3 separate regions of the Homo sapiens genome follow, and all the other regions are linked to region 1. Evidence: fine-mapped expression QTL. A gene starts in region 1. Each other region holds a variant in brackets. All regions are shown on one strand. Distances are between the middles of the regions. Region 1 holds the start of EOGT (EGF domain specific O-linked N-acetylglucosamine transferase). Region 2 overlaps EOGT (EGF domain specific O-linked N-acetylglucosamine transferase). Region 3 overlaps UBA3 (ubiquitin like modifier activating enzyme 3).

Region 1 (9,870 bases):
TACATTTGAGATTAATATTTTAAGAAAATGAAGCCCTAATTTTCTATAAGTTACATTATTAGTATTAAGTGTAGTTTTTTTTTTTTTTTTTGACAGAGTCTCACTCTGTTGCCTGGGCTGGAGTGCAGTGGTGTGATCTCAGCTTACTGCAGCCTCTGCCTCCCAGGTTCAAGTGATCCTCCTGCCTTAGCCTCCCAAGTAGCTGGGATTACAGGTGCGCACCAGCACATCCGGCTAATTTTTGTATTTTTAGTAGAGATGGGTTTCACCATGTTGGCCAGGCTGGTTTCGAACTCAAGTGACCTGCCCACCTTGGCCTCCCAAAGTGCTGGGATTATAGGCATAAGCCACTGCGCCCGGCCCTAAGTTCATTATCTTCTAATGAAGATATGTTTTCGGAAAACACAGTGCTAAGAATTTACTTATAACTAGCTGGTAACTACTGTAAGGATAGTTTGTGTCAGTTTTTAATCTTAAGCAATATCAAGACATTCTTCTAAAAGTCTTATGTTTCTGTATTCAAGTAATAACAACAGTTAAAATAAGTTATCCTCTATTTCTGAGTTCATATTGCTTGGATTAAGCTCTGTAACCTTTAAAGTACTTTTAATCTGTTGCCTTTATACATACGCATTTTACCTTTTAGCAAATTAAGATCTTTTTGTAAGACAGACTGGAAATGAAATGTATTTCTCCTTAGTACTTAAATACCTTTTCTCAAAACAAAACAAAAAAACTCAAAATGCTTCAATAATTCACAAATACGGTAAAGAGAATTTACTCTTAGAACTGTCTGGAATTCCCCACACTGCCCTACTCCCAAGTAGCCTAAATTTAATATTTAGAATCGCAAATAACATTAAACAAGAACGTAATGGCAGGTTTTTCTGTTTGTTTAATATTAAACATTCTTCTTGCTTTTACAGGTATAGGCACAGCATGGTAGATAGAGGTATTCCTTCCATTTTTATAAAATGCCATGCTGATTTGTCTGTTTTAAAATTACAATCTTAATTTTTAAAAATATACGTTGTTCAAAAATCTGTGGTCAGGTTGGTAATAGGAAATATAGTCTTTTCTTCTTTTTTCTTTTTTTGGGAAACATAGTCTTATTTTGTTCCAAACACTGTGTAAGGAATTCACTTATGTAGGATTATAATCCCATAATCATTGTTCTGAAATCCACAAAGCTCTAAAAACCATACATATTTTAATACATTTGCTGTTAAATCTACTTCGGTGGTAAAGCCTGCACTGCACTGACATAGGGCTATGTATAGTCTTTAACTCATTTGGTGTGAATACTCATACATTTTGCTGCAGAAATACTGTGTGAGATTATGGGGTACTCACCCAGGACTCAGTGGGGGGGGGGGGGTATTAAGTTAAACGATGGGCATATCTATTCTATTTTTTAAAGTTCAGACACACACAGGGACCCAAGGATTTTGGAAAAGGAAGTGTGTACCCACACTTTATCATCAAGTCAACCTTTTAAAATGGATGCCATTATCACCCCCATTTTTAAAAATAAAGATTAAGTAAATTGCTCAAGGTCATATGGCAAGTAAGTGGCAAAGCTGGGATTCTAATTTGTGCAGTTTGGCTCCAGAGTCTATGATTTCAATAATTAATTATATGGTGCTACTTTTCCTACTGCTTTTCTGTAAAATCATAAGCATATAGATCAGTTACAGCCAAAATTTATTCATTAAAAATGTCAACACCTTTTAATTATGGTCTAACAGTTGGATGAGAGAACCAGTATACTACATTCTGCTGATATTGTTAGCAATTTACTCATTGTAATTTGTTGGATTTGTCTCAAATTTTTTAAGCCATGCATTCTTCCATCTCTGTCTCTCTTTTTCTTAATTCTTGCAATTTCGATGAAGTTTCTTATTTGTAGAAAAAACTAGGTCATTTGTCCTATAGTTTCCCTCCATCTGGATGTTGATTTCTTACCTTTTGTTAGTGTGTTCCGCCTCCTGTGTTTAAATCTAAAGGCAATTATTTTTCAACAAAAATACTTCATTAGGTGGAAGTGTATTCTTCCAGCAGGAGACAGATAATTCCTGATGGTTTCTCAGTTGTGATAAAGAAATAATTGATGATCACTTCTTAAATCTATTAGTTCACAGAGCTTGTGGAGTGATATTGTCATTTCTTTTTCATTTAGTAGTTGGAATGTTTCCATAAAAAATTTACTTCAGTTATTTTGTTATTTGCATCATAATTCATACAGGAAAGACAGTATAAATATTCCTGATTCTTTCCCTTTGTTTACCAGTTTTCAGAATAAGAGTTGGTTTCCTTCTGTCATTAAAAATGAACAGCGATACCTTTTTGGCTTGCATGTTTGGTTGATTGGTCGTGTCTGATATGATTACTTAAATGTATCTGTCCTTCATCCAATTACAGTTACCTTTATTTATGTTTTAAATCATCCTATCTTTGGCCAGTAGGAAGGTTTTCAAGGTGGATCCTGAGTCCTTTTGATATGACCCTAATAGCCTTTTGATTGCTTTGCTGCTTCCTGATGTAAGATGTTGCAGGCTTATCTTGTACATTTCCTGCTCCAGACCCAAGATCATCCATTGTTCTATGGAGTCAGTGTTTCTTTTAATGGGAAATGGTTGGTAGAGATCACAGTGTGAGCGCAAGGGGGTGCTTCTTCCTCCTGGGTAGCTTGTCTCTAGGCCTTTTCAATGGAGCACGTAGGAGAGATGTGTTTTTAAAGATTAACCATACTGTTAATCATACTGAGGCCTCCAACTGAAATTCAGAACTACAGGATGTTTATATAGCCTGATTAAGCTTTCATATTTCTATCTCATGTCAAAAATTTCAGCTTCAAAGGTACCATCATAATTACTTCAACTTGGTGTATCCCATAATACCAATATTGCCACCAACAATTTGGTTACGGAATGCAGTCTACAAAAGAGTTTTTTTGTACTTTAGTCCTGAGAATACATCCCACTAAGTATATACAAATTAAGTTTTAAAGTCACTTGGGATAGCTCCTCTGGGTGATATGCCACAATTGGAAAACATTTAGGTTCATTTAGTTTCATTTTACTTTCAAGGATTGCTTTTTAAAAACAGAATTTTGCTTTATAATGTAACATATTTACATGACTTCAAAGTCATGTCTTCACGCCAGGCGTGGTGGCTCACGCCTGTAATCCAAGCAGTTTGGGAGGCTGAGGTGGGCGGATCACTTGAGGTCAGGAGTTCGAGACCAGCCTGGCCAATACAGTGAAACCCCGTCTCTACTAAAAATATAAATATTTGTCAGGCATGGTGGCGCATGCCTGTAATCGCAGTTACTCAGGAGTCTGAGGGAGAAGAATTGCTTGAACCCAGGAGATGGAGGTTGCAGTGAGCCAAGATTGCACCATTGTACTCCAGCCTGGGCAAAAGAGTAAGACTCTGTCACACACACACACACACACATACACACACACACACACACACACACCAAAAAACAAAGTCATGTCTTCTTTGTTCCTTATACCCCTCCTCTTCCCTCCTTGCCCATATAGTCATTTTAAATGTTAATCTACTTGTAAAATAATAATTAGTAAATATATATGTGTATACACATGTATACACACATATTCCTCTTAGAAAAATGATATTTACATATTACATATCCTTTTCCCACTCAATATTCTGTAGTGTACAGAGATATTTCTCAATTCCTTTTTATGCATGCATAGTTTTACATTGTATGGATAAACCATAGTTTATTCAACCAGCCTTCTATTGGTAGACACTTGAGTTTTATGTCAGCTCAAAGAAAATTTAAATTCTAACATTGGTATTTTGGAGAGAAATTCTATTTGAGAATGGCTGTTACAGTAAGAGAGACTCAATCTCATGTTCAGGTTTATCATATCTGGTTTCCTGTAAGTCTGAATGACCATTCAATATGTAGGTGTTTAAAATAGCACCACATAGCCAGGCGTGGTGGCTCACAACTGTAAACCCAGCACTTTAGGAGGCCGAGGCTGGAAGATCACTTGAGGCCCGGAGTTGGAAACAAGTGCTGGGAACATAGCAAGAACCTGTTTCTACAAAAAAAATAAAATAAAATAGTACCATGCACATGTCATACTGATTTTAACCTTTTTGTATGTGACAAAAATAGGATGGTAGCAAGTAGGCTGAGGAAGCTTTTTTTTTTTTTTTTTATGAGACAGGGTCTCACTGTGGCCCAGGCTAGAGTGCAGTGTCTCAATCATGGCTCACTGCAGCCTCAACCTCACTGGGCTCAAGCGATCATCCTGAGTAGCTGGGACTACTGGCATGAGCCACAGTGCCTGGCTTGAGGAAGCATTTTAAAAAATTACTGTCATTAGTGTGGGATGGTGAAGTATGCAAAGTATAAAATAATAGAGCAGTAATTCTGTTATAGGAAAGGGGTCCCAATCCAGACCCCAAGAGAGGGTTCTTGGATCTCGAGCAAGAAAGAATTCAGGGCAAAGTGTAAGCAAGTTTGTTAAGAAAGTAAAGGAAAAAAAAAAAGAAAGTAAAGGAAGAAAAGAATGGCTACTCCATAGACAAAGCAGCCCTGAGTGCTGCTGGTTGCCCATTTTTATGGTTATTTCTTGATGATATGCTAAACAGGTGGATTATTCATGCCTCCCCTTTTAAGACCATATAGGGTAACTTCCTGACATTGCCATGGCATTCGTAAACTGTCATGGCGCTGATAGGAGTATAGTAGTAAGGACTACCAGAGGTCTCTTTCATGGCCATCTTGGTTTTGGTGGGATTTAGCCGGCTTATTTACTGCAACCTGTTTTATCAACAAGGTCTTTATGACCTGTATCTTGTGCCGACTTCCTATCTCATTCTGCGACTTAGAATGCTTTAACGGCCTGGGAATGCAGCCCAGTAGGTTTCAGCCTCATTTTACTCAGCTCCTATTTAAGATGGAGTTGCTCCGGTTCACATGCCTCTTGACAGTTCCCTTAGAGGCAAAATCTTTTCAATAAAAAGAATAAATTAATACTGTAAAGTGCTTTAAAACAATGTTTGGCACATGTTAAACACCACATGTTCTTGCTGTTATTATTTGAAAAAAATTCCAGGTAAGATTCCTAATTTAGCAGGTCACTAATGGAACTTGTAACAATTCTTAAACAACATTACTTTTAAAAATTACGTAAAAAGCATGTAAGCCTTTGGAAACAAACTTGTTTCCTTATGATCATATTATTTAACTTCTGGTGACTATATTCATTTGAGCATGTTTATTTTGAAGTCATCACCTTCATATAATCAGTTCAACTTTAGTCACTATTTAATGATCAACTCTACTGTGCTGTAGATGGAATACTAGGCCTGGGGGAGCTTAGAGGAAAAGACAGTGGGGGATGGGAGTTCAAATAATTATAAGCAGTAATAAAGTAAATTAACAAAACCATAAAAATTAAACTCCACAGAGTAGCATTTGAACTTGATGAGTTTACGGATAGGTAAAACTATACTGCTTTTAAAATGTGTGTGGACTCCAAAGTATCCTCACCATCACAAAGTGTATTCGGTGAACGATGTTCAGTCCCCAAATTTGGAAGTTAGGGCGGCAACTTCTGCTTGAAATAAGACAAAAGTAAAAATCCACCTCAGTGCAACGCAGAAGACACGAAGAGTCAGGTTTTCTACCCACCCCGTCCTAACATCCTCTGAGCGCTTTAACGCTCTCGCTCAAGGAGGCGCGGGCTGCTGCGATGGAGATGGGCGTCCGGCGCCGGCACGTGCCGTCGGTCTTTCCGGCCCTGGTGAGGGAGCTGGCGGACTCGCGCGAACGTTCGCGGGAGAACGCCAGGAAGGGCAGATGGTTCCTCGACTCTGAGCCCCTCCCTGCTGCGCTCGCCGGGTCGAGGCCGCTCGCCGGGCTGAAGCCGCTCCGAGCGTCGGGCCCCGCGCCCTGGCCCTCCTGGGTGTAGTCCCGGTCCTGCCTCTGCGGGGCCCGAGCCCGCCCACGGCGCCGGCTGGCCAAGGTGTCCCAGCTGCTCCTTGGCGCCCCCTGGCCCAGCTCCCGCGCCCGAGGTTTCCGGTGAGCGGCAGTAGCCGGTTATGACGACTCCCTCCTCTGGAACAGCCGCCGTCTCCTCCGCCTCCTCCTCGGTAGTTCACGGCTGCCCCGGCTCCAGGTGGGACTCCCCCGCAATCTGCGGAGCCTTCCCCCGCTCTCCTTCCCGCCGCCGCAGCGCTCTGCGCTGTTCTTGCCCGGGTGGTAGCCGCTCCCGGCGCGGCTTCCCGGAGGGCTATAGCCTACGCACGCACTCCGCCCGCGCCTTCCCATTCCCTGCGGGCCGGGAGGCGGGCGTCGGAAGCCGATCCTGGCCCTCCCCGGCCCCGGGCGCCCGGCCCCTTCCCAGCGCCCGGAGCGCAGGCGGGCCCCGGGCCCTAGCCGCGTTGACCAGGTTTCCAGCCGGGGCGGAGCCGCTCCCCGGGGCCCCTCCCAGGCGCGCTGGGGACCCGGGGCGCCGCGGTGCACGGTGGCGGGCGGCCCCGGGAGATCACCGACCCCGAAGCAATCCCTGGCGGCGCCCGGGGTCCGGAACCCCAGCGCGGCGTCTCAGCCGCGGCGGGGTGCTCGCCACTGACCCCTCAGCCCTTGGCCGGGACTGACGTTCAAGCGGACAGCTGGGCTCTGCCGGGACTGACGTTCAAGGGGCAGCCGAGCACTTCCTGAGCCCTGCCTGGCACCCGCCGAGAGACTTTTTGGCACAAGTAGGGGCCAGCCGTTGAGGTGTCATTCGGGGTCTCACGTGTTGAACTTTCCATTTGCCCACTGCCGTCTTTAAACTTTTCCAAGCTCTCTCTCTCTGCGACATTGCCCCATTTCGCCCGCTGTGTCAACCCCAGGTTTTGCCTCCTATCCATCATCTTTCAGATGTTTCCCTTTTTTCCTTCCTCATTAGGCCTGTGGAAATCGAATCAAGGGTTTCTGGAGTGGAGTGATTCCAGCTGCTTTGAGCTGAAGGAAAAGTAGCCTGGCCAGTAAAGCGTCCGTGTGCTGGAGGAGTGCAGCCACCCATCCCGGCGGGCCTTGCAGGACGACCGACACCAGGAAGGCTTTGTGCCAGGCCCAGCAGCCACCCCCAGCCGCCTTATGCAAGTGGGTACATGCCCTCGCCAGACGCCAGCTTTCTGATCTGCGTCTTTAGATTTTTTCCATCGCCTAAGCGTTACTTCTCCACTGATCGGTGAGTTTAGTGATGGCCAGAGCTCACTGGAGGACAATGGACTTGGATAACCAAAGGTCAGGGCTTGGTCATAACAATGACTTTATTACCGGGAAGGACGAGTCAAAAAATAGGAAGGCCTGGGAACCCTCAGGCTCGCCACTCTAGGTGGGTAGCCCTGTGATTCAGCCAGTGGGATTACTGCTGTGAGAATGGGAAAGTTGTTTGCTTCTGGGAATGTTTGATCCACTAAGTATCCTGTTGGCCAGTTCCAGTGGATGCCTGTAGAAAGTGGGCCACCTCCTCCCGTTCCCCATTGGAATCTGGTCCGAGTTGCTGTGTTGGGGGTGGTGCCTGTGAACTCGAGTATAGCAGTGTGGTATTCATTAAGGAAAAGAAAGCGCACCACCGGCCAGGCCTTCTGGCTGAGAGTTATCACGTTACATTATTTTCTTTCTTAATATTTCCTTTAATTCACAACATCATCTGAATGATCAGGTTTACTTTAGCATCCTTTTAAGGTAATATGTTTCATTTCTGACAGGTTTTAGAGACCTGAAACATCACAGAAGCTTCTGAGTGGTTCTGAAGATTCAAGAGGTATATATTTTTATTACAAGTAGAGTCATTGTTACTATTAATATGTGTTTTTAAATTTTTATAAAACTGCTGTCAACTCATTCTTGGATAAAAGCTCCAAGTGAAAATGTTATTGTAATTCAGATCAGATTTACAGCAGATAACACCATACTCTTGAGGGCCGCCAAAGTGAAAAACCACAATACTTAACTACTCCAAGGGGGGAAAATGGGGGAAAAAGGATTCCTTTTTGGTGTCCCCACTGTTCACTTAGAATTCCATGGCCTTGGAACTTGAGGTTTGATGGAACATAGCAGTCAATTTCCTTTTCTTCTTTCTTTCTTTGTTTTTTTTTTTTTTTGAGACAGAGTCTCCCTCGCATTACCCAGGCTGGAGTGCAGTGGCGAGATCACGACTCACTGCATCCTTGACTTCCCAGGCTAAAGTGATCCTCCCACTTCAGCTGGGACTACAGCTGATTTTTTGTATTCTTAGCAGAGACCGGGTTTCATCACGTTGCCCAAGCTGGTCTCGAACTCAGGGACTCAAGCAATCTGCCAGTCTTGGCCTCCCAAAGTGCTACTATTACAGGCCTGCAGTCTGTTTCTAAAGGTTCCATCTTCACAGCCCATAATCAATGAAGACTGATTTCGAAAGTTGGGTTTTCCGGTATGACCCAGGAAACAGCAGTCCTAGCTGATGAACATCCAGTGTGTATTAAGACTCTGTCATCCAGTGGAAAGAGCACTTAAAAAAAAAAAAAGAACAAAGATCCCACTAAAGTGACCTGAGAATGGCAGGATCATTGTCTGGGATATATAGGAGAAATCTGGTCCAAGAGATTTAACACTTACTGGGTGAATTAGAAATGCAGTGAGGTTTCTGACCATTATCACTGTTCACAATGTAAAGGCATGATGGGAGAGCTTAAGGGCACAGTCTTTGAGGCAGACTGCTTAGTGTCCTGGAGTTTCTAAGTCTTAGCTATTATAGCTGATTATTATACCTACTAGCATGTAAGCTTCACAAGGGCAATGAGTTTAGTTCGTGACTGCACCTTCATTGCTGTATCCTGAGTACAGAAGCGCTCCTGGAACATTGTCTGTGCTCATACCTTGATTATGATTATAATTTTTTATTCAGCAGACACACACTTGCTCAGAGCCATCCCACTCCCTTTGCTCTCTCACAGATACTTTTCCCCTCCTCATCATTCAGATCTCAGCTTTAATGTTATTTAGGCCCCTTCTCTGCCCCACATGGCTTTAAACTTTTATTTAATAAACATTTCCATAGCATTTAGCATGTGCCAGATAGTTTTCGAAACACTTTACCAATAACTAACTCATTTAACTCATGACAGCTCTATGATGAAGGTTTATTATTATTTCCATTTTACAGATGGGAAAGCTTAGGTGCAGAAAGGTTAAGTAACTTGTTCCAGGTCTTACAGCTGGGAAGCTGCAGATTTGCGATTCAAATCCAGGTGGTTAAGCTTTAAATGTTCACCATGCTATGTTGTCTATCATATTACTTTATTTAGTTTCAGGTATCACTAAACTGGATCCTATCAAGCCCTTCCATAATTTTTGTAAGTTAAAAAGTTTTATTGGAACACAGCCTCATCCATTCTTTTATAATAGACCATGGCTACTTTTTTGGACAGAGGCATTGTTGTGTAGTTGCCACAGAGATCTTATGTCTGGCAAAGCCAAAAATATTTACTGCTTCTCCTTTACAGGAAAAGTTTGCTGGCCCCTAGTTGGTTTGATTCACAGGCCCAGTCATCAGCTGAAGTTGTTTATTTGATTGCTTGTTTATGACAGTTGTAGTAGGTTTAAAGGCACCATGAGAGCAAGGCTCTTTCTTGTTTTGTTCACCTCTGTATACCCATTTGCTAACGTGGTGCCTGGCACCAAGCAAGTGCTCAAAAAAAATTGAATAAAGGATCATTATTCAGTGGGATAGCAAAGTGCTTTGTAATTATACTTAGCCCTTGACCCTTTGTTTTTTTTTTTTTTTTGTTGTTGTTGTTGTTGTTGTTTTGGCTTTTAAAGGAAATTTGTTAACAAAGTTGTCTTCATTT
Region 2 (10,228 bases), 36 kb after region 1:
CCGTGGCCTAATTGTGAGGGACAGAGAACCATGACTATATTTTTGATAATAGATTAACAATGCTTTGTTACTTTCTGTTTGCTAGAAGAATAATTGTTTTTCTATGTAGAAGTACTGAAAATGTTTTTCTGCCAAGACCTTAGTATTTTCAGAGGATGAGGTTCAAAGCGCTAGTGTTGTCTGAAATGAGATAATGGATGGGGCAAAAACTCTTAAGGTAAAGTCTAGAACATTTTGGGCATTCTGATGCCCAAAAATGTGTGTTGAAAGTTGAGGGAATAATAAGCAAATGGTAATAACAACAGTTAATGGTTAGCTATTTCTGTGCCTAGCACTTTACTTCCCTGAATTGTCTTCTCCTTTCAGCCTCACAGCAACACAGTGCATTGGTATCTGAGGGAGGTAGAGTCGTGTGTTCACAGGTGGGGCCTGGATTTGAACTTAATGACAGTTCAGAACTATTGACCTGAATGATATTTATTTATTTTCTTTTTATTTGTTGTTGTTGTTACCAAATGATATTTAATATCTGAAATAGTATATGCAAAAAAAGAAATTTTAGGACTCATAAGGGAAAAACAGAAGTGAAAGAAGGAAAAGAAATGCTAAATGTTTCTCTTTTTTTCCCAGCTTGTAAATGCACTGAAAACAGTATCTACATTTGAAGTCCAGATTGTTGATTACAAGTATAGGTAAGTAATAGCCAATCTCAGCAGACACTGTCAACTTTTGCTTGGATGAGGTCAAGGGGGCTAGAAAGCATTTTTCCAGTGGGAGCCATTGGCATTTGTAGGCCCAGAAGGGACAAGTAGACACTACAGATGAATGAAATGGGCAGGTGAAGTCCCTGGTAACAAGGGCAGTTACTCTTTGGCTTTCTGGGGCCTGATGTTGTCACTCCATCTCCTTATTCAAAAGAAGTGATGAATTCAGATTTTCATTTAAAATTTCAGAATTTTTTGTTTGTTTGTTTGTTTGTTTTTGAGACAGAATCTTGCTCTGTCACCCAGGCTGGAGTGCAGTGGTGCCATCTCAGCTCACTGCAACCTCCACCTCCTGGGTTCAAGTAATTCTCCTGCCTCTGCCTCCCGAGTAGCTGGGACTACAGGCGTGTGCCACCATATCCGGCTAATTTTTGTATTTTTTGTAGAGACGAGGTTTCACCATATTGGTCAGGCTGGTCTTGAAGTCGTGACCTCAAGTGATCTGCCCGCCTCTGCCTCCCAAAGTGCTGCAATTAAAGGCATGAGCCACCACACCCGGCCTAAAATTTCATAATTTTAAAAAATTGGCAGACTGGCCACGATGGCTCACGCCTGTAATCCTAGCACTTTGGGAGACTGAGATGGGTGGATTGCCTGGGCTCAGGAGTTCAAGACCAACCTGGACAACATGGTGCAACCCCATCTCTACTAAAAAATAAAAAAAATTAGCCGAGTGTGGCAGCGTGTGCCTGTAGTCCTAGCTGTTCAGGATGCTGAGGCAGGAGAATGGCTTGAACCCAGGAGGTAGAAGTTGAAGGGAGCTGACATTGCACCATTGCACTCCGGCCTGTGTGACAGTACGAGGCTCTGTCTCAAAAAAAAAAAAATTGGCAACTAGTTCAAAATTTAGGTGTTATAAAATTTATCAAATATTTGATAACATTATCAAATGTTTGATAACAAAAAAGTTATCAAAATTTAGATGTTATAAACCTAATTTGCCCTGCCTCCTGCCAGATTTCAACATCTGACTGAAAATTATTTATATGGGGATAATTTGAGGGTCAGAATAACATGAAATTTTAAAAAAACTTACCAAATATTTACATTTCTTTTAAAACTCTTAACACAACTAAAAGGCTTAGAAAGACAGAATATGCCTATTATTCACAGTTTGGGTAATTCCTGTTGCTAGAATTACATCTTCCTGGTAAAAGTAGTACATGTTTCTGGTTGAAAAGTCAAGCAGTATAGAAAAGATCAAAAGGAAAAGTGAAAACTTCTGTCTCCATGTCCACCTACAGTCACAGCTGTGTTTCCCAAATCTAACACTGTGAACACTTTCCAGTTAAAAGAAGTATACATATCCCAGCATGTGGGTATCTAATATAGATACACTTAATTTCAGAGAATGTTGGCATGGGAGCTTTGCACTTCATTCATCATACATTAGTTCATTTGTGCAATAAATCTCTATTGGGGACCCATGAGCTGGTCACCAGTCTCAGCAGTAGGAATCCCATTATGGCGGATGGCATAGCCCTGGTCTTGAGGATCTCAGACACTGAATAGAGGTAAATAGCAATTGTAAAAACAGCTACTATTTATCGAAATGTACTTTTATGCTTACTTGCTTTATCTCATCTCACGCTTTCAACAGTCTTCTGAGTTGGCCCAGCTAGTCCCATTTTACAGATTATGTAAAATCTGCTGCGCTGAAGAAATGTTGTGTCAGTGTTGCTTGAAGAAATGAGTGAGCCAATATGGGGCCCCCACATCAGTCCCAAAACCATTCACCTAGATGAGGCTGGGAAGAAATGGAAAGAACTGGGCAGGGCACCTCTGAGGCTGTATCATTGACTGGCTTTTAAGGATATGTTGTAGTTTCTCAGATAAGCAAGAATGATAATGAATTCGTACCTTGCCAGTCTGCGGGAAATACTAGTAACATGTTGGCATGGGGATTGGTGAGTGCTGACCACAGGCGTTTCCACAACTGGCAGTGCAGGGGTATGTTCACCTGGGTGAATGGCCGTCCTTCCCTTGGCATCAGTTCACATTCCTGGAGAAACTGAGGCACATGTTCTCGTTGTGATACACATACACATGGAGCTGTCATCTTTTTCCTATGCGGAGTTTTTGTTGTTAGCTGGTGTAAAAGGGAATTCAGCTTCCCTTCGTAGATCCAAAATAATCTTGATCATTTATTTTTCTTTACTTTGGGTAAGTTGGGGCTGGGAGATCTCATTTCTTTCTGTTTATTCAGAGTGTCACCCTTATTCCAGCATTTCTCCCTAGCCTCACCTCAGTGAATTGTTTGGGGACTGATTTTTGGTTCAAAGTTTACACACTGGTTAGTGTCTTGGATTTAGAGAACACTTGTACAGTCCTAACATGCATAAAATTGTGGATTTGTCTGTTCCAAAGGCAGGATAATGCCCTGGTGGTATCTGAGATCATTTTGGAGGTACCCAGAGGGCATTATAAAAACTTAAATCACACAAGGAGAAATGTTTCTTTTTAAAAAGTGCTTCTATTGTCCTAAGGAAATAGTTTTTAATTTAGTGCTAGTGTGTCACAACATCTCTTTAACACTTGCCAATTTCTCTTTTTCATGAAGAAAGAGCAGGCCTCAGGCTCTGAGCTTTGTCTTGCAATAGTATCTACCTCGATTTGAACACTACTTAGTTTGATTATATCAATTTTTACAGTTTTGTTGATGTCATATGTCACTGCTTTTCCATTTAAGACAGATATTAAAGTTTCCTTTAAAAAAAGTACTTAAACCTAAAAGGATAGGTGAGCTTACTTAGAAAATATGTTAAATTATTAAGAAACTTATTAATTACTAGAGCGCACTTGAAATTGGCAAAAATGCTTCTTAAAAATGGAATGTGGTTTAAAATGGGCAATACACTTTTATAAATATCCTTACTGTGAATCATGAACTAACTCAACCTAATACTTCTCTCTTCTCCCCATCTCTCTCATGTTATTCTGTATGTTCACAGAGAACTTGGGTTTTTAGATCAACTAAGGATCACACACAACACGGACATATTTATTGGAATGCATGGAGCTGGTCTGACCCATTTACTTTTCCTTCCAGACTGGGCTGCTGTATTTGAACTGTAAGTGTTGGGAGGCAGTTTTACACTGAAGCAACTGATAATGCTTTTTATGCATGCTAAAGCTTTCATTCTGAGCATCAAAAGGCTTAATATTTAATCATTCAAAAAGAGAAGTCACATCATATAGACAATCTGGAAAGAAAAGAGGCCTGAAGCTAAAAATACAAAGTCTGCAGCCTGCCATTGCACTTAGTAAGCCAACTACCCCTTCATCTTCCCATCCCGAGCATGATATGGAAGATGTGAATCTGTGGTTTCCTTATTCTGAGTTTGTTCCTGCATACCTCCCAAACTCTGAGCGTCTTCTTGCAAACAGTGTAGTTATTGTGTTAAAAGAAAGCATTTATGTCTCATGCACGACATAGCTTCAAAACACAAGCCAACCACTTAACTTAGTGCTTGCTGATCCCATACACAGGGAAACTGAGGCCCTTGGGTGTTCATGATTTGCCCAGGGCATACTTTTAACTCAGTGGTTGGTTTATGGAGACATGACCTTCCCTCTCATAATAATTCTGCTGTTGGCACTGTGCTCCATTTTAGGTCTTGAGACACTAATAGCAGTTACTGTTACCTGTTTCCCCCCATTATGTCTAAATATCTGGGTTCTATGGTTTCATTTTAAAAGTGATTTGACTCTGTATTTAAATAGGAGGCTATTTAGGAAAAAAGTTGTCATGAACTTCCAATGCCCTGCAAAACATTTCAAAAATATATATGATATATGTAGAGAAATAGCCAGATAATGGATTCTATCTCTGTCATTTCTCTTATAGAGAGAGAAGGAAGGATGGAAGAAAGGAGAGAGAAGGGAGAGAAATGTAACTGAGAAAACTCAAGCCTTATAGTCTAATGGACCTGGGTTCTACTTTTGCATCCTTCACTATTTAGTTATATGACCTTGGAAGTGTTACCTATCCCCCTTGCCTCTTTCATACATTTAAAGACAGAGGTATTATAAGGTCATGCCAAGTCCATAGGCAGCAGGCCCTATTGAATAAGGTCAATTCTCTCCATTCCATGACCCTATTTTGTTTTTTAAAAGTTAAGTTCATTTAGTTCAGAGAATATTTTTACATTCTCTTCCTCAGTCTTGTTTACTGTCTTCCTCAGTCTTGTTTACAACCTTTTGCAAGGACATATTTGGGAGCTGCATTTTATTTTCGCAGAGTTGTTGATTTGGAAAAAACCTTGGACAAAAGCCTCATGTTGTGACACCCTTGTGTCCTTAGGTACAACTGTGAAGATGAACGCTGTTACTTAGACTTGGCCAGGCTGAGAGGCGTTCACTACATCACTTGGCGACGGCAGAACAAAGTCTTTCCTCAGGATAAGGTAAAGTTCAATCACAAAACTTACCTTGCTTCATTTTTAATTGGTTTAAAGTATCCAATTATTGATATGAAAAATGGTTATTGAACTTCAGTGCTGCAAAGATAAACTGTTCTCTGGAATACTGAATTGTTTTATTTTATATTTGCAAATAGGAGAAAAAGGGGAATTAAGCAACCTATATCTTTAATGTTACAAAGGCAGCTTCGTGAAATTTGGGCTTAGAAAGATCTATTAGATTATATATAGAGACGGGATCAACAAGCAACAGCCCTGTGGGCAAATCCAGCCCATGACATGTTTTTGTAAAGAAAGCACAGTCATGCCTGTCTGTTTATGCACTGTCTCTAGTTGTTTGTGCACTTCAACGACAGTGGAGTAACTGTGACTGAGACCTTAGAGTCAGCAGAGCTGAAAATATTTATCATCTGGCCCTTATCAGGAAAAGTTTGCTGGTCTCTGATGTAGAACATAAATTAGTTGCCTTAACCAAAGTAACATAATTTTCCTGCTGTAGAGAAAACCATGCCCTCATTGAGTTATGGATTCGTGTTTTGGTTTATTTTCACAGGGCCACCATCCAACCCTGGGGGAGCACCCGAAGTTCACCAACTACTCTTTCGATGTAGAAGAATTTATGTATCTTGTCCTTCAGGCTGCAGACCACGTATTGCAACACCCAAAGTGGCCATTTAAGAAGAAACATGATGAGCTATAAATATGCTGAGTCTGTTTGCAAAAAGAGAGTGTTTAAACACTCCAACACCCAGACTTAGAATTAAATCAGTAAAGCAATCTGTTATTTCCTATCCCCGAATTACCTTTTCTATGCCAAAACATACCTTCAGGATATTGTTATGTGTTGTATAGATGTTAAGTGTTTCATGTGGTTTTTGTGTCATTGCTATTTATCAATAGCAATAATTTTGCACTGAAAACTTTTTATAGTTCAAAAATTAAGCATGGACTCCCCAGTATACTTTAACTTTCTTTCTTTCTTTTTTTTTTT[TTG/G]GAGACAGAGTCTCACTGTCACCCAGGCTGGAGTGCAGTGGCATGATCTCAGTTTATGCAACTTCTGCCTCCCCAGGTTCAAGCGATTCTTTTGCCTCAGCCACCTGACTAGCTGGGATTGCAGCCTGCACCACCACACCTGGCTAAATTTTTGTTGTTGTCGTTGAGATACAGTTTCACTCTGTCACCCAGGCTGGAGTGCAGTGGCATGATCTCAGCTCACTGCAACCTCTGCCTTCTGGATTCAAGTGATTCTTGTGCCTTAGCCTCCCAAGTAGCTGGGATTACAGGCGTGCACCACCACGCCCAGTTGATTTTTGTATTTTTGATAGAGACGGAGTTTCACCATGTTGGCCAGGCTGGTCTCGAACTCTGGGTTCAAGAAATCCTCCCACCTTGCCTCCCAAAGTGCTGGGATTACAGGTGTGAGCCACCACGCATGGCCCTGAACTTTCTCTTTTTAGGAATACCAAAGTTTTCAACTTTTTCAGCTTTAGAATTTGTAAATATTTTTGTAGAATATCATATGACTGTAATTCCAGAGTGTTCCAACTTGTTTATGATATATTTGGGTAAATTTACAACTGTTCTTTTATTTGCCATAATCTGGTTATAACACTGTTTGTGGTAGGAAAGGAAAACATGCAAAACATACACACACACACACACACACACACACACACGCAGAGTTGTGATTCTCAGTACCAAGCTATAGGACCATGTTATAGATCAGCGTTTAGTCACCTCCAGGTTATATGCATCGAGAACCTGAATAAATCATGCCACTATATTAATTTATATTACATGTTTCATATTTAAATCATGTTTTCCTAAAATGTAGCAACTACATGTGATAAAAGCAAATTAGAACATTCTGTAGGACTGTCTTGCATACCTTCTGTCTGGTTTCCACTGATTCCTTCTTAGCCATGGAGAGCATTTGTGATTAATTAATTTATATATGAAATAATGGTTTCCATTTTATGCGAGTATTTGTAACTGCATATACCAGTGCGTGTGCGTCTACCTCTGTCAGCATGAAAGTATTCCAGTCTTTAATTTCAAAAACTTCAAATTAGCCTCATGAAGAGAATTTTTCCCTGTGAAAAGTAAGACCAAGAAAAAACAAACTAAAGACATGTGACTTATTCAATGAAAGTGAAAAAGAAGCTCTAAAACAGTGTCATTGATTAAAAAGAATATCTGGAATGTAGCCCCACTCTTTGAGTGGGATTCATTTCTTACTGCTTATGAACTTTCAATTTAGTAGTCAGAAACCATGGATTTATTTTACTGCACAATGTGAAGTTTACATTTTATTAACACTTGAGTAGTCTGATTTAGAGACTAGTTACTTCTATTTTTTAAAATAATGGAGTAACAAATTACAGAATAGCTAAATAATTTTTTAAAAATATTTTACAGTTGTAAAAAATATCCATCAGAAAAATGACACACAAAACAAAATATCTGGACCTTTACAGAAGACGTTTGCTGACCCCCACTTTAAAGGATTGGAACAGTCTTCTAGAATTGAGGAATATTTATTAAAATACCTGTAAAGAAAATAGTGAATCACTGTAGCAATGGCTTTGATTCAGACCTTAAAATCACATAAGAAGAATTACAACATGTTATGGATTTTTAAGTGGCAGGTATTGTAACTGTTTTTTGTGTGCAAAATACTGAGTAACCACTGGGAAAATATTTCAGATGAAAGGGATGACAAAAGCATGTTGCGCTTTGCATCAGCAAGGCATTGACTTCTGAAAAAATGATCTGAAAAAAGTTTCACCGTTTGTCTTCTTACCTCATTTTAAGAAGCATGTGAAAATGGGATACTATAGACTACTGAGAATTTCAGAAATTGAGAACAATTTCATAATAAAACGGCTATATTTGAAGAGAGAATACATTTTATATAAACAGGAAAATACATTTGACACTTTATGGAATTTTATGAGACTTTTTGTGGGAACAGAAGGTCTTCAAATTGTAAAATGTAAAGATTGCTCTTTTTATTAAGTCTTTAACAGGGATGTATTTCATTGTATGTTTTGGGTATGGCTTTGGAATAAATCATTTTATATTTTATTTGAATATCAGAACCATTTTTAAGGTTTTCTGTGTCTGAATGTTTCTGTGCTTCCTTTTTGGCAATCTGGTAGCTCTTAGATTATAAAAATTAAGTACCTCTCTGATGAAGAATTCAGTTTGATCAAAAATGCCTTTTATTTAGCAGTTTATTACATGATGCTTCTATAAATGTTATATTGTATAATCATTACCAAAATGACATAAGAATTATGGTTCCTGTTTTTCATGTGAAGAATGCTTCCCTAAAGATCACAAGCCTTCTGATTCCACGTTCACAGTCTTCCATTCGTTTAGGGAAGTCTTCCATTCCACTCTAGGGAAGTTATGGGACTTCCCTGAAGATCACAAGCCTTCTGATTCCACGTTCACAGTCTTCCATTCGTTTAGGGAAGTCTTCCATTCCACTTTAGGGAAGTTATGGGACTTCCCTGAAGATCACAAGCCTTCTTCTGATTCCATGTTCACAGTCTTCCATTCGTTTATTTACTTGTTCATTTAGTAAATATTGATTGGGCTGCAACTTTGTATCAGTTACTATTCTAAGTTCTGGGAATACAGCAAAGAATAGATAAAAGTTATTGCCCTCATGGAGCTTACGTTCTGATGGAGACAGACATTAAACAACATAATGGAGCTTACATTCTGGTGGAGACAGACGTTAAATAACATCAATAAGATGTACCGTGTGCCAGATCCTGATACGTGCTATGGAGAAAACCAAAGAAAGGGATGTGGAGTCTGGGGTGGGGTGGAGTCCTGCACACTTAAGTAGGGGGTCAGGGAAGCCTTCATTGACTCAAGACTAGAAGGAGGTGAGGGATGGAGTTATGCAGATAACTGGACAAGGAGCATTCCAAGAAGCTAGAAGAAGATGTGCAAAGACCCCAAGGCAGAAGCATGCCTGGTATGTTTGAGGAAGAGCAAGGAAGCCAGTGTGGCTGGTGTGATCAAGGGCAGAGGAGTAGGAGGCAAAGTCAAGAGATAATGCAACAAGGGTGTAGATGGCAAGGTTCTGATGAGATGGAAGCCATTGAAGGGATCTGAGTAAAGTAGTAAAGACCTGCCTTATCTCTAACACACTAACTCTAGCTGTTACGCTGAGAATAGGGTGTGGAGGGATGTCTTAGGAAAACAGATTCTGGGATGGAGATTTGAATGCAGATAGTTTTTGGGGGGAAGGTTCTCACGATCAACACCTGTGAGGGTGTAAGGGGTCCAGGCTTGGGCAGAGGGAGAAATTGAGGGGCAATGCCAGGTGAGGCCTCAGCGGGGTGCTGTAGGGCTGGAGTGGCCTTTCAGTGAGGTCCCCAAATGAGGCAAGAAATGCACGAGGCAAGAAATGCACGTAAGTTCAAACAGGGGCCATCCCAGAGAGGGGTGGGGCCTTAGCAAGGCCACTTCCTTCAGCTGAGGGCAAGGCCTGGTGAGGAGCTCAGCTGTGACCCATCAGCAGCCAAATGTCAAGCAATCTGGGGACTGAGTGCTTCAGTCTGAAGGGGATCTCAGCGGCACATTCACTAGCGGGTGAGGTGGTGCCGAGGTGCCGTTTAGCTTGTCTTACTCTCCCTCCTGCTTCCTGTCAACTGAAAGTTGGATCTAAAGTCTCCTTAAGATTCAGATTGAATGTCTGTTTTTAAAGAATACTTATAGTTGATACCGTGTACTGCTGACTGAATATTTTAGGCTTTGTGGGCCACATATGGTCTCTGCTGCGTATTATTATTTGTTGCCCTCCTCCTGCAATCTTTTAAAAATGTAAAAACCGTTCTAAGATGTTTAAATAGAGGTTAAGGAACTTGCCCAAAGTCACACAGCCAGTAGCAGAAGGATTGGATATAGGGCTTTCTTGGTGAAGGAATTTTGAGTTAGGTAGGGATGTTTACATGTAATGCAGGAAGGAAGGAGGTCGGGGAGGAAGAAAGGGAGGAAGGAAGGAAGGGAGGGAAAGAGAAG
Region 3 (10,228 bases), 44 kb before region 1:
AAGGGCATAAATATAATGATATAGGGGTTCAGGAATGAGAAAAAGTAAGTAGTTAGGGGAGGAATGGCAGAAAAGTTTTGTCAGAAAGGAGAGTTGTGTTCATTTAGTCAGATTCCTTGAATTCCACTGATGTGAACATTGATTACTTATTTCTTGTTGTAAATATATGCAGAGTGTGTTCCTTATGGCATTGTCAAATTCATTTTAGAAATTAAAACTTAGCTGCTTAAGTTCCTTTACTTGTATTCAGACATTTCAACAAGATTCAAGATTTTAACGACACTTTCTATCGACGTAAGTTTTTTACTTGAAATTAATGCTCACTAGATTCTTAGAATTTTTTAGTTGGTAGCTATTCAAATATTGCTAGCTATTTCAAGGCTATTTCTTCACTTGCTTTCCTCTCTCACTGTTGGCTTTTCAGTAATGTTGCTGATAGACTGAAAAGAGAATGCTAGTTTTAGCTGACATGACCAGCTACAAGTTTCTATGCTTACCTGAATGAGAGTTCACTCAAGGAATTGGAGCTCTGAGAACGTATGTGGGATTACAGTAAAAAGTGCTTGTGGTTTTTTTGTTGGTTTCTTAGAACGTGCAAATTGTTTTCTGCAAGTGCTTTTTTTTTTTAATTAGTAAACTTTATTTTTTAGGGCAGTTTTATGTTCACAACAAAATTGAACAGAAAATTTTTGAAAACTTGGGTTCTCATAGAGCTTCCTGTTCCCACAAACACACTACCTTCCTAATCAACATCTTGCACCAGAGTGGTACATTTGTTGCAGTTGATGAATCTACATTGAAAGATCATCATGCAACTACATATTTAAAAACTAAAGTTGCTTTTTTTTTTTTTTGTAGAATTTCATATTATTGTATGTGGACTGGACTCTATCATCGCCAGAAGATGGATAAATGGCATGCTGGTAAAGACTTTAGTATTGTTATAGTTCTCTGAAGTTCTTGCTGCTGTGCTTCACATCCCCAAAATTAGAATTGATATATTTTTGAAAAATCAGAGTTTAATTTTTAATTAAGTATATTTACTTCATTGTTTATTGCCAGTCATTGGTTTTCAGGTGAAGACACAAATTGTTATTATAATCCCTTGATTTGATACATTGGTATTCAATAGCACAACCGACTCATAGGATTACTTGAAAGCATACTTCTTCTTTTGAATTCTTATCCCCTTCTCCTTTAAAGCCCTTCAAATTGTTTTCCTAGATATCTCTTCTAAATTATGAAGATGGTGTCTTAGATCCAAGCTCCATTGTCCCTTTGATAGATGGGGGGACAGAAGGTTTTAAAGGAAATGCCCGGGTGATTCTGCCTGGAATGACTGCTTGTATCGAATGCACGCTGGAACTTTATCCACCACAGGTAATCAAAAAAGCACCTGCATTTCTTTTATAGTATCTTGGCATGGAATTAGGGATTAATTATTAAGTCTAGTTAATATTTAGGATTGTTAATTAGAAGTGGCCGTATTTTAAAAATTACACTAAGAAGAAAGATAAAATATGAAATTCTGCTCTATTTGAGGAAAGATATGAACCGAGTACATTGTTTTGATACTATTCTGCTTTCATAATTTATTTGTATTTTTTATTTGGGGAGTAGGTATCAAGTAGAATTACAAAGTTGTATATTGATGTCAAGCTGTAATCTATGTGGTTTTCACCTGTATTTATTTCAGGGAAATAAAGATACCAGGGATAAGAATGATCTTTCCAAGGATGGGGCTTTTTGGTTTACATATCCACTTTAAAGAACACTTGAAATTTTGAATAATAAATGTAAACAATTTTATGAGTATTCACTTGGGATTCACTTAACTCTGAACTTGCTTTTGTTTTGGTTTGCTTTATACTTAAATATTAGGTAAAAATAACAAGGTGTTCATATTTGAGAAAATCTGTTCAGTATTTTTCTTCTCATAGTCTAACAAAGCTTAAATTTTATACCTTGTAAATGTAGGGCAAACCTGTCTTTACAGGCAGTGCAGCCTAAGTGAAGTGACTCAGTTAATCTGTATTATAGTTTGAGAGGCATTTTTAATGGTATACAATATTTTGAGTTGAAACAAATTGTATGAAATTGTTAAGAACTAGATCATAACTGGAAGTTGCATTTTAAAATAATTCGTTTAAAATTCACTGAAAAGGACAAACTGTGGTTTTAGGTTAATTTTCCCATGTGCACCATTGCATCTATGCCCAGGCTACCAGAACACTGTATTGAGTATGTAAGGATGTTGCAGTGGCCTAAGGAGCAGCCTTTTGGAGGTAATAAACCTAATTTAATAATCTAGAATTACATAAAATACATATTTTTTCTATATTATTCCTTTGGATAATTTCATTAAAAACATTGTTTTGTGATTACGTATTCCTGTCTTCTCTCTCTCTCTCTCTCCCTTTTTTTTTTTAAACAGAAGGGGTTCCATTAGATGGAGATGATCCTGAACATATACAATGGATTTTCCAAAAATCCCTAGAGAGAGCATCACAATATAATATTAGGGGTGTTACGTATAGGCTCACTCAAGGTAAGTCAGCAAATTGTCATGAATTATGATGTTGGGATGACTTAGGGCTGGGATGCTTTCAGGAGAATAATCGATAAGTGAGTTTAGACAGTACCATCCACTTGAAGTTCAGTAAAGGTACCATGTAATTCATACTACTTATTAGCTAGGGGGAATTTAATAAAATTATTGAATCTTACTTACTTAGGCTATAAGTCATCCAAGTCAAACTGTCCATTTTATCTTCCACTGAATTCATCATCTCTTAGAGACAGTCTATTTCACATTTGGACAGGACTGTTAGACAAATATTCTATATATTGAACAGAAATTGTCTTCAGGTCAGCTGCGGTGGCTTATACCTGCAATCCTAGCACTTCGGGAGGCCGAGGCAGGCGGATCACCTGAGGTCAGGAGTTCGAGAGCAGTCTGACCAACATGGCAACACCCTGTCTCTACTAAAAATACAAAATTAGCTGGGTGTGGTGGCACATGCCTGTAATCCCAGCTACTCAGGAAGCTGAGGCAGGAGAATCACTTGAACCCAGGAGGCTGAGGTTGCAGTGAGCCTGAGATTGCGCCACTGCTTTCCAGCCTGGGCAACAAGAGCAAAACTTCGTCTCAAAATAGAAATCGTCTTCAGTTTGGTCTGACTGTTGTCCCAGTACTGTATACAGTCTAATTCCCTTTTAAGTAATAGCTTTTAACATATTGAGGACAGTGATCACATCCTTTGCAAATTTTTATCAGTGCCATAAACCTCCCTAGTTAGTTCCTTTAACCCTGTATTAGTTCATTTTGCTTTGCTATAAAGGAATATCTGAAACTGGGTAATTTATTCAGGAAAGAGGTTTATTTGGCTCATGGTTCTGCAGGCTGTGTGAGCATGGCAAAAGCATCTGCTTGGCTTCTGGTGAGACCTCAGGAAGCTTTTACTCGTGAAAGCTAAGGGGGATGGCAAGGCATGTCATATGACGAGAGGGAGCAAGAGAGAGAGGAGGGAATACCAGGCTTCTTTTAATAACCAGCTCTTGCGTGAACTTAATATCACAGGGAGGGCACCAAGCCATGCATGTGGGATCTGCCCTAACGGTCCAAACACCTCCCACTAGGCCTCACCTCCAACACTGGGGATCACATTTCAGTATGAGATTTGGAGGGGACAGATATCCAAACTATATCCAACCCTTTGATATGTTGTACAGCTTCAGGTTCTCATGTTGTTTTTCTGTAACCATATTCCAGCTATCCATATTGGTTAACTGGAATATAGTTAGAGAAAACAACTTTTCCTAATTGTTCAGGCCAACATGCAGCATTATGGGACTGGTCTTAACTTTAGATAATAGACTTCTGATAACTGATGCAGTCTTAAAGGAGAGCAGGTATTTATGTTGTTGTTTTTTTGTTTACATTGATGCTATACTTTGGATTCTTTGATGTTACTAGCCACTGAAAGCTGGATGTTTTGTCCACATATGCAATTGCTAAGCCACATCTGCCTATTATAAACTTGGCAGTTTGGGGAGTGTCTTTTTTTTTTTGTTTTTCTTAATATCCAAGTATAGGTCCTTACAAATGTATTCTTAAAATTCAACCTGTTTTTCTCTCTTTATATGTATTCTGCCAACTTACCTGGTGTTTCTAGCTTCATTTCACCTGTTTTGATAATTATATCCTTTATTTCTTTTTCAAATAATTGATGAAAATTTTTAATAAGACTGAACTCTCTGAGAACAGACATCTGAATCATACTTCTGGCCAGGCCCTTTTAGGTTTATCTCATTCTGTTCATCAGACCTTCTTGGTACTTTGTATTTCTTTATCTTGTTCACAAGGATGTCATGAAAAACCTTTCCAGATCCTCTACTGAAGCCTAGGTATGCTATCTTTTGCATTTTCCTGAGTTGCTAAGTTAGTCATAGTAGCCAAATGAGGCTACTCCAACATGATTTGTCTAGTAACCAGTCATGCTCAATCATAGTGATCAATGTTTCCAATCTAGTTATAGTTTCCTTTTTTAGAATTTTGCCCAAGATCATTACCAGGTTCACCAGAATGAGCTTTGTCTTCTTTTTGAAAATCTGCCATTTCTCTCCTGTGATTATTTCCTTACATTTACTGATCTAGTAATGTCATTTTAAAATTCCATTTATACTTACTCCTTGTTGCCCTCTGCATTCTCCCTACACGGACCTGCTTTGTGTTCCTTGAACACACCAAGTTCTTCTGTACCTTAGAGCTTTAATACTCCCGAGTTCCTACGCCGGGGATGGTGTTTCCTTGGATCCCCTCAGGCTGGCTCCTCATCTCTTAGGTGTCTGCTTAACCAGTTTTCCTAATCATTCAACCTAAAATGACTTCTGAGCCATTCACCATTCTATTTTTTTTGGTAATTGCTCAGAACTGATTAATGGTAGCCTCATTCTCCTATGCAAAGAATATTTCACACTTAAACTATCTTACATCCTTGCCCCAGGACCAGGACCATTGCCATTGCTGTTTACAAACAGCTTTTTCTTCAGGTAATTGCATGGCTGGATCTCTCTCATGGCTTAGGTTTCAGCTCAAGTTATCACCTCTCCAAGGAGGCCTTCCCTGACCATTCTCTCTAATGGACTGCATCCATCATTCTCAGTCTAACACATACCTCATTTTCTTCATAGAACTCTTCAATATCTGAGGTGTTCCAAGTATTTACTTTTGTGTTATCTCCCCTATCAAAATGAAATCACTATACGAGCAGATACTTTTTTTCATTGTTACTATGCACAACACCTAGAACAGTGTCTGGAGCATGTGTTACACATATTTGCTAATTGTTAGAATTAACAAACGAATTCAGTGTGTTCTAACCAGAAACTGTAAACTCCCCATTTTAATATGTAGTCTCATCCATCCTTCTTTACCTTTTACCAGGGCTTGGTGTGTACTTTCTAGGCTGGTGAATGAGGGCCTCAACAAGGAGTACAGAAGGAGAATTGGAAGTGAAGTTGCACAAGCCAGTGGTTCTATCTATTCTATGATTTTTCCCCTTGTTCTCAGTATAACAGAAAGTTGCCTTTCTGCCCACTCTAGCTTTTTTTGGTCGAAGGGCAGGGGTATGGGTGGCAGGGGTTGGAGAAAGAGGGGAGTCCTCATCATTTTGGCAATGTTCTTACTGGGCAGTGTCTCTTACACGCTTCACTGTTTGTGTCTACCACTTCCTCCTTTCAGTACATCCTGCTACATGTGGTTCAGTGGAGAGCTTCCAGTTTAACCATCATGCAGTTTATCTCTTTTTAAATTTCCTCTTCTCCAAAACTATAGAGAATCATATGGTCACAGTCAACTTTTTAAAAAAGCTTTCCAGCCTTCGTAACTGTCTTTCTTTCATGTCTTCTTAGCTACTTGCTGTTTTTCCTTAAGTTTTTGAAACCTGACTATACTTGGAGTCTTGGGAACACATCTTACAGTGTTTCCTCACACTGTGAGATAAAATGGCTACTTTTTCTTGAAGTTTTTGTCTTCTAAAATGAACAATTCAAATATAGTTATAAAATGGAGTATTTATTTTGTACTTTTAAAAAATGGTTTAAGGTGAGGCTTTGTTTATTCCTAATATGTGAATAATACTGATGTGAAAAATGTGAGTCCCAGCACTTTGGGAGGCCAGGGCGGGCGGATCACAAGGTCAGGATATCGAGACCATC[G/C]TGGCTAACACGGTGAAACCCCATCTCTACTAAAAATACAAAAAATTAGCCAGGCGTGGTGGCGGGCCCCTGTAGTCCCAGCTACTTGGGAGGCTGAGGCAGGAGAATGGCGTGAACCCAGAAGGCGGAGCTTGCAGTGAGCCGAGATCAGATCACGACACTGCACTCCAGCCTGGGCGACAGAGCGAGACTCTGTCTCAAAAAAAAAAAAAAAAAAAGAAAAATGTGGGGTTGAAGTAGAGAACTGTATTTAATATTTTGTGTAGCCTCGGTTGTAGAGTAAAAGATAATAAAGGGCAGCTTTTCTTTTTTTTGAATGTTTGTGAATCAAGTGACTGAAGCTGTTACAGGAATAATTAGATAACACTTATTCTTCATGGTGTATCAGTTAATATCTGTGTTCATATGCCAACCCCACCTCTTGCTAAGTATATAGCTGTGGATAAATTACTAAATTTCTCTCAGTCTCACTTTTCTTATGTTTAAAATCAGAGTAATTAACATGAAGATGTTGTGAAAATTAAATAATATTTAGTCTTTACATTGTGCCTGGAACATAATACTCTAAATTGTTAACTATTATGATGTTATTGTTTCACCTTTCTATAGCACTTACTTGAGAGAGTTTTCTTTGCTACTGTAGCTTAAGATTCTGAATTTACTACAAAGTGATGGGGATGTGAAAGATTGTTTCATGGTTAAATTTATTTTCTGGCTTGAAAGTCTGAAAAATCAAGTTTTAGAAAATGGTATTTAATAATCATGCCTTCTAATTTAAGAGAACTCTTTTATTTTAAAGAAATGACCATATTTTAATTGATATGTTTTTTCAGGGGTAGTAAAAAGAATCATTCCTGCAGTAGCTTCCACAAATGCAGTCATTGCAGGTGAGGAAGAAAAGGCCATCACTTAGTTTATTTTGCTTTCTTTAGTTTTTGACGTTGCTGCAGCTTTTTTGTGTTGTAGGAATTTGATATCTTCTTGGATGGGTTGTGTAACTAAGCTGTCGAAAAAGAACCAGTTATTAGACTTTGCATATTTTTTGTCTTACATTATGTCTTAAGTTACCTGCAGTAAAGAGACGTTTTAGTTCCATATGAAGCAGGCCATTTATTAATCTGATAAACAAGAAAAACATGTAGTGTTACTCTATTACATGAATCACACAAAACAATGTAAAATTTGTTACTGTCTCAGTTTTTAAAAATTGGAATATGTATTTTTTAATGAAGAGCCAATGTAAATTTATCTGTTCTGATTTATAACTGACTTTTAACATGCCTAATTTCCATTGAGTTAAAGCACCTGTATTTTCTCCTCCCTTCAGCTGTGTGTGCCACTGAGGTTTTTAAAATAGCCACAAGGTAATAGGTTTCATTTTTAATATGCATGTAAATTTATGTTTTGACTTGGTTTAATTATATAAAGATGAACATTTTTTCATTACAGTGCATACATTCCCTTGAATAATTACTTGGTGTTTAATGATGTAGATGGGCTGTATACATACACATTTGAAGCAGAAAGAAAGGTTAGTAGTATTAAGAACACATTTTTGATCATGCATATTTTGATTTTTAAATATTATTGGTTAGAAATTTGAACAAAGTCACCCATACATTTTCTAACTTCCAGAACTCTACTTATTATATATCTTTTGCTTTATAGCCTGAAATAACTCTATAGCGAAGTAATTTACAAGAAATGGTCTATTATGAAAAGCAGGCTTTAAAGCATAAAAATTTTTTTATAGGAAATATGCATGATTATAAAACAACCTGATTTTTATTTTATTGTTCATAAAAGAGACTAATATTGGTGCATGTGCTGCTGTAATTTGTTGTGTATTATGTGTGTAGGAAAACTGCCCAGCTTGTAGCCAGCTTCCTCAAAATATTCAGTTTTCTCCATCAGCTAAACTACAGGAGGTTTTGGATTATCTAACCAATAGTGCTTCTCTGTAAGTATTGTAGATTTTTGTTATGTTGTAAAAATCATTTTTGTGATTTTTGAAACCTTAAAAAAATTATCTTTTGATAAAAATTATGTTTGATACTTCTCTCTCATCATAATCTTTAGGCAAATGAAATCTCCAGCCATCACAGCCACCCTAGAGGGAAAAAATAGAACACTTTACTTACAGGTTATCAATGTGTATTTTAAATTTTTTTCAGAAAATTATATCAAGTTTTATTTTACTTTAATGTGTCTTACATTAAAGTAATTTTGTTTTCTAGTCGGTAACCTCTATTGAAGAACGAACAAGGCCAAATCTCTCCAAAACATTGAAAGGTATTTTACATAAGGGTATTTACTAATCATTTTCTTTCTTTTCTCTCTTTTTGGTGAAAGTAATCAGTGCTTGTTCTAGATTTCCTCTTAATGCCTTGTATATGGTCAGGTAATAATTACTTACAACTTTAGACATATTAATAGAATTAATTGCTCTTTTAGTAGAATATTTTAAAATCTCTAAGAAATCAAATATTACTTTGATTAAAGAGGATTGGATTTTGATGTTTTTCTAGACCGTAATACTCTGTAGTTTGTTTACATGTGTATTATCCTTTCTGTTGAGTTTTTTTTGCTTGTATTAATAATATTTTTTCTGTTTTAGAATTGGGGCTTGTTGATGGACAAGAACTGGCGGTTGCTGATGTCACCACCCCACAGACTGTACTATTCAAACTTCATTTTACTTCTTAAGGAAAATCTCCACATAATAGAAAACTCATGGAAATAATATACTTTGTGGATGCTAAGAAGTTGAATCGATGTCATTTTTAGCAATAGTGTTGCCACGATTTGTCTTTTTTTATATAATGAACCACTCTTTTTTAACTTTGTAACCTTCCCTTGAAGACAGAATTTTGGTGTTGGTGCTTGTAAGCATTTTCATTAATAATATGAGAAATGATACCTGGAGAGAGAGATTATGAGCAAATGTATTGCTTCTTTTAGAGGAGGAAGCATACAACCTCTTTTGTGTGAATTTTGTTATTATGGTCAAAGAATGCATTCCTAAGTTTTCATTTGAGTACCCAAATACACAAAAGGTGTCCCTTTAAGGAAAATAAAGAATTAAGTTTTAAATAACATTACATTTTACAATCTGACATCTGGAGTATATTGAACATAGGCTATTTCTTGATATAACACTCATTTAATTGTGGCCATCCAAATGAATATTATTGCAGAATTTATCTTGTTCATAATGATTTGTAAATGGTGTTATAGCTGAATACCTGTGCATGAAAATGGGCAATATTTTCATCTGTTTACTTGTAGTGCCATAGAGGCCAATATGCACAATATTAACTAATGCCAAGACATGGCTGTTTAAAAAATTTAATGTTCAAACAGTTATCACTGATGCTTTTGCACTATTTATTAATAAAATCATATATTGTGTACTTCTTTCACTGAAGTTTTTAAAAGTACATTAAGGGTAATCAGTAGTTCCATGGTAATATAGGAATAATTTTTAAATGTGTAGCAGAGTTATATCAAATTTTTATTGCACTTAATACTTTTGCTACAGCAATTTCTATAGTAAAAATTTACTGGTTTAATTTAACTTTCTGTATCAATATAATTTTTTTTTTTTTTTTTTTTGCGACAGAGTTTCGCTCTTGTTGCCCAGGCTGGAGTGCGATGATGCAACCTCAGCTCACTGCAACCTCTGCCTCCCCGGTTCAGGCAATTCTCCTGCCTCAGCCTCCGGAGTAACTGGGATTACAGGCGCCTGCCACCATGCACGGCTAATTTTTTGTATTTTTAGTAGGGACGGGGTTTCACCACGTTGGCCAGGCTGGTCTCAAACTCCTGACCTCAGGTGATCCACCCCCCCCCGCCCCCCTCGGCTTCCCAAAGTGCTGGGATTACAGGCATGAGCCACCATGCCTGACCATGTTTTTGTTTCTTTTAAGTGAATAAAACTTCAAACAAAATTAAGTACAAATACTAAAAAAGTAGGTGCTAGTATTTTAATATGAGAACATGTATGTGT

What was found.
Region 2: its variant is fine-mapped to the expression of EOGT in monocytes after interferon gamma (Fairfax 2014, PIP 0.95).
Region 3: its variant is fine-mapped to the expression of EOGT in skeletal muscle (GTEx, PIP 0.98).

What each region holds. Positions count from the first base shown.
Region 1 is chr3:69,009,871-69,019,740 of GRCh38, reverse strand. It overlaps EOGT (EGF domain specific O-linked N-acetylglucosamine transferase), which reads left to right and starts at 6,057. Exons shown (of 18, transcript NM_001278689.2): 1 at 6,057-6,167; 2 at 6,942-7,226; 3 at 7,750-7,805. It overlaps EOGT-DT (EOGT divergent transcript), which reads right to left and starts at 6,621. Exons shown (of 1, transcript NR_185971.1): 1 at 1,688-6,621. RefSeq lists silencers at 5,830-6,129, 6,190-6,739.
Region 2 is chr3:68,973,275-68,983,502 of GRCh38, reverse strand. It overlaps EOGT (EGF domain specific O-linked N-acetylglucosamine transferase), which reads left to right. Exons shown (of 18, transcript NM_001278689.2): 15 at 631-692; 16 at 3,716-3,835; 17 at 5,068-5,170; 18 at 5,739-8,278. The coding sequence ends at 5,885. Among named protein-coding and RNA genes, the nearest start is that of EOGT-DT, 35 kb to the left of the region's middle. The variant TTG/G (reference allele first, on the strand shown) is at 6,177.
Region 3 is chr3:69,054,134-69,064,361 of GRCh38, reverse strand. UBA3 (ubiquitin like modifier activating enzyme 3) reads left to right here. Exons shown (of 18, transcript NM_003968.4): 7 at 251-294; 8 at 859-923; 9 at 1,225-1,380; 10 at 2,183-2,285; 11 at 2,435-2,548; 12 at 7,053-7,106; 13 at 7,547-7,583; 14 at 7,669-7,750; 15 at 8,079-8,179; 16 at 8,299-8,362; 17 at 8,457-8,511; 18 at 8,837-9,632. The coding sequence ends at 8,925. Among named protein-coding and RNA genes, the nearest start is that of TMF1, 6.9 kb to the right of the region's middle. The variant G/C (reference allele first, on the strand shown) is at 6,220.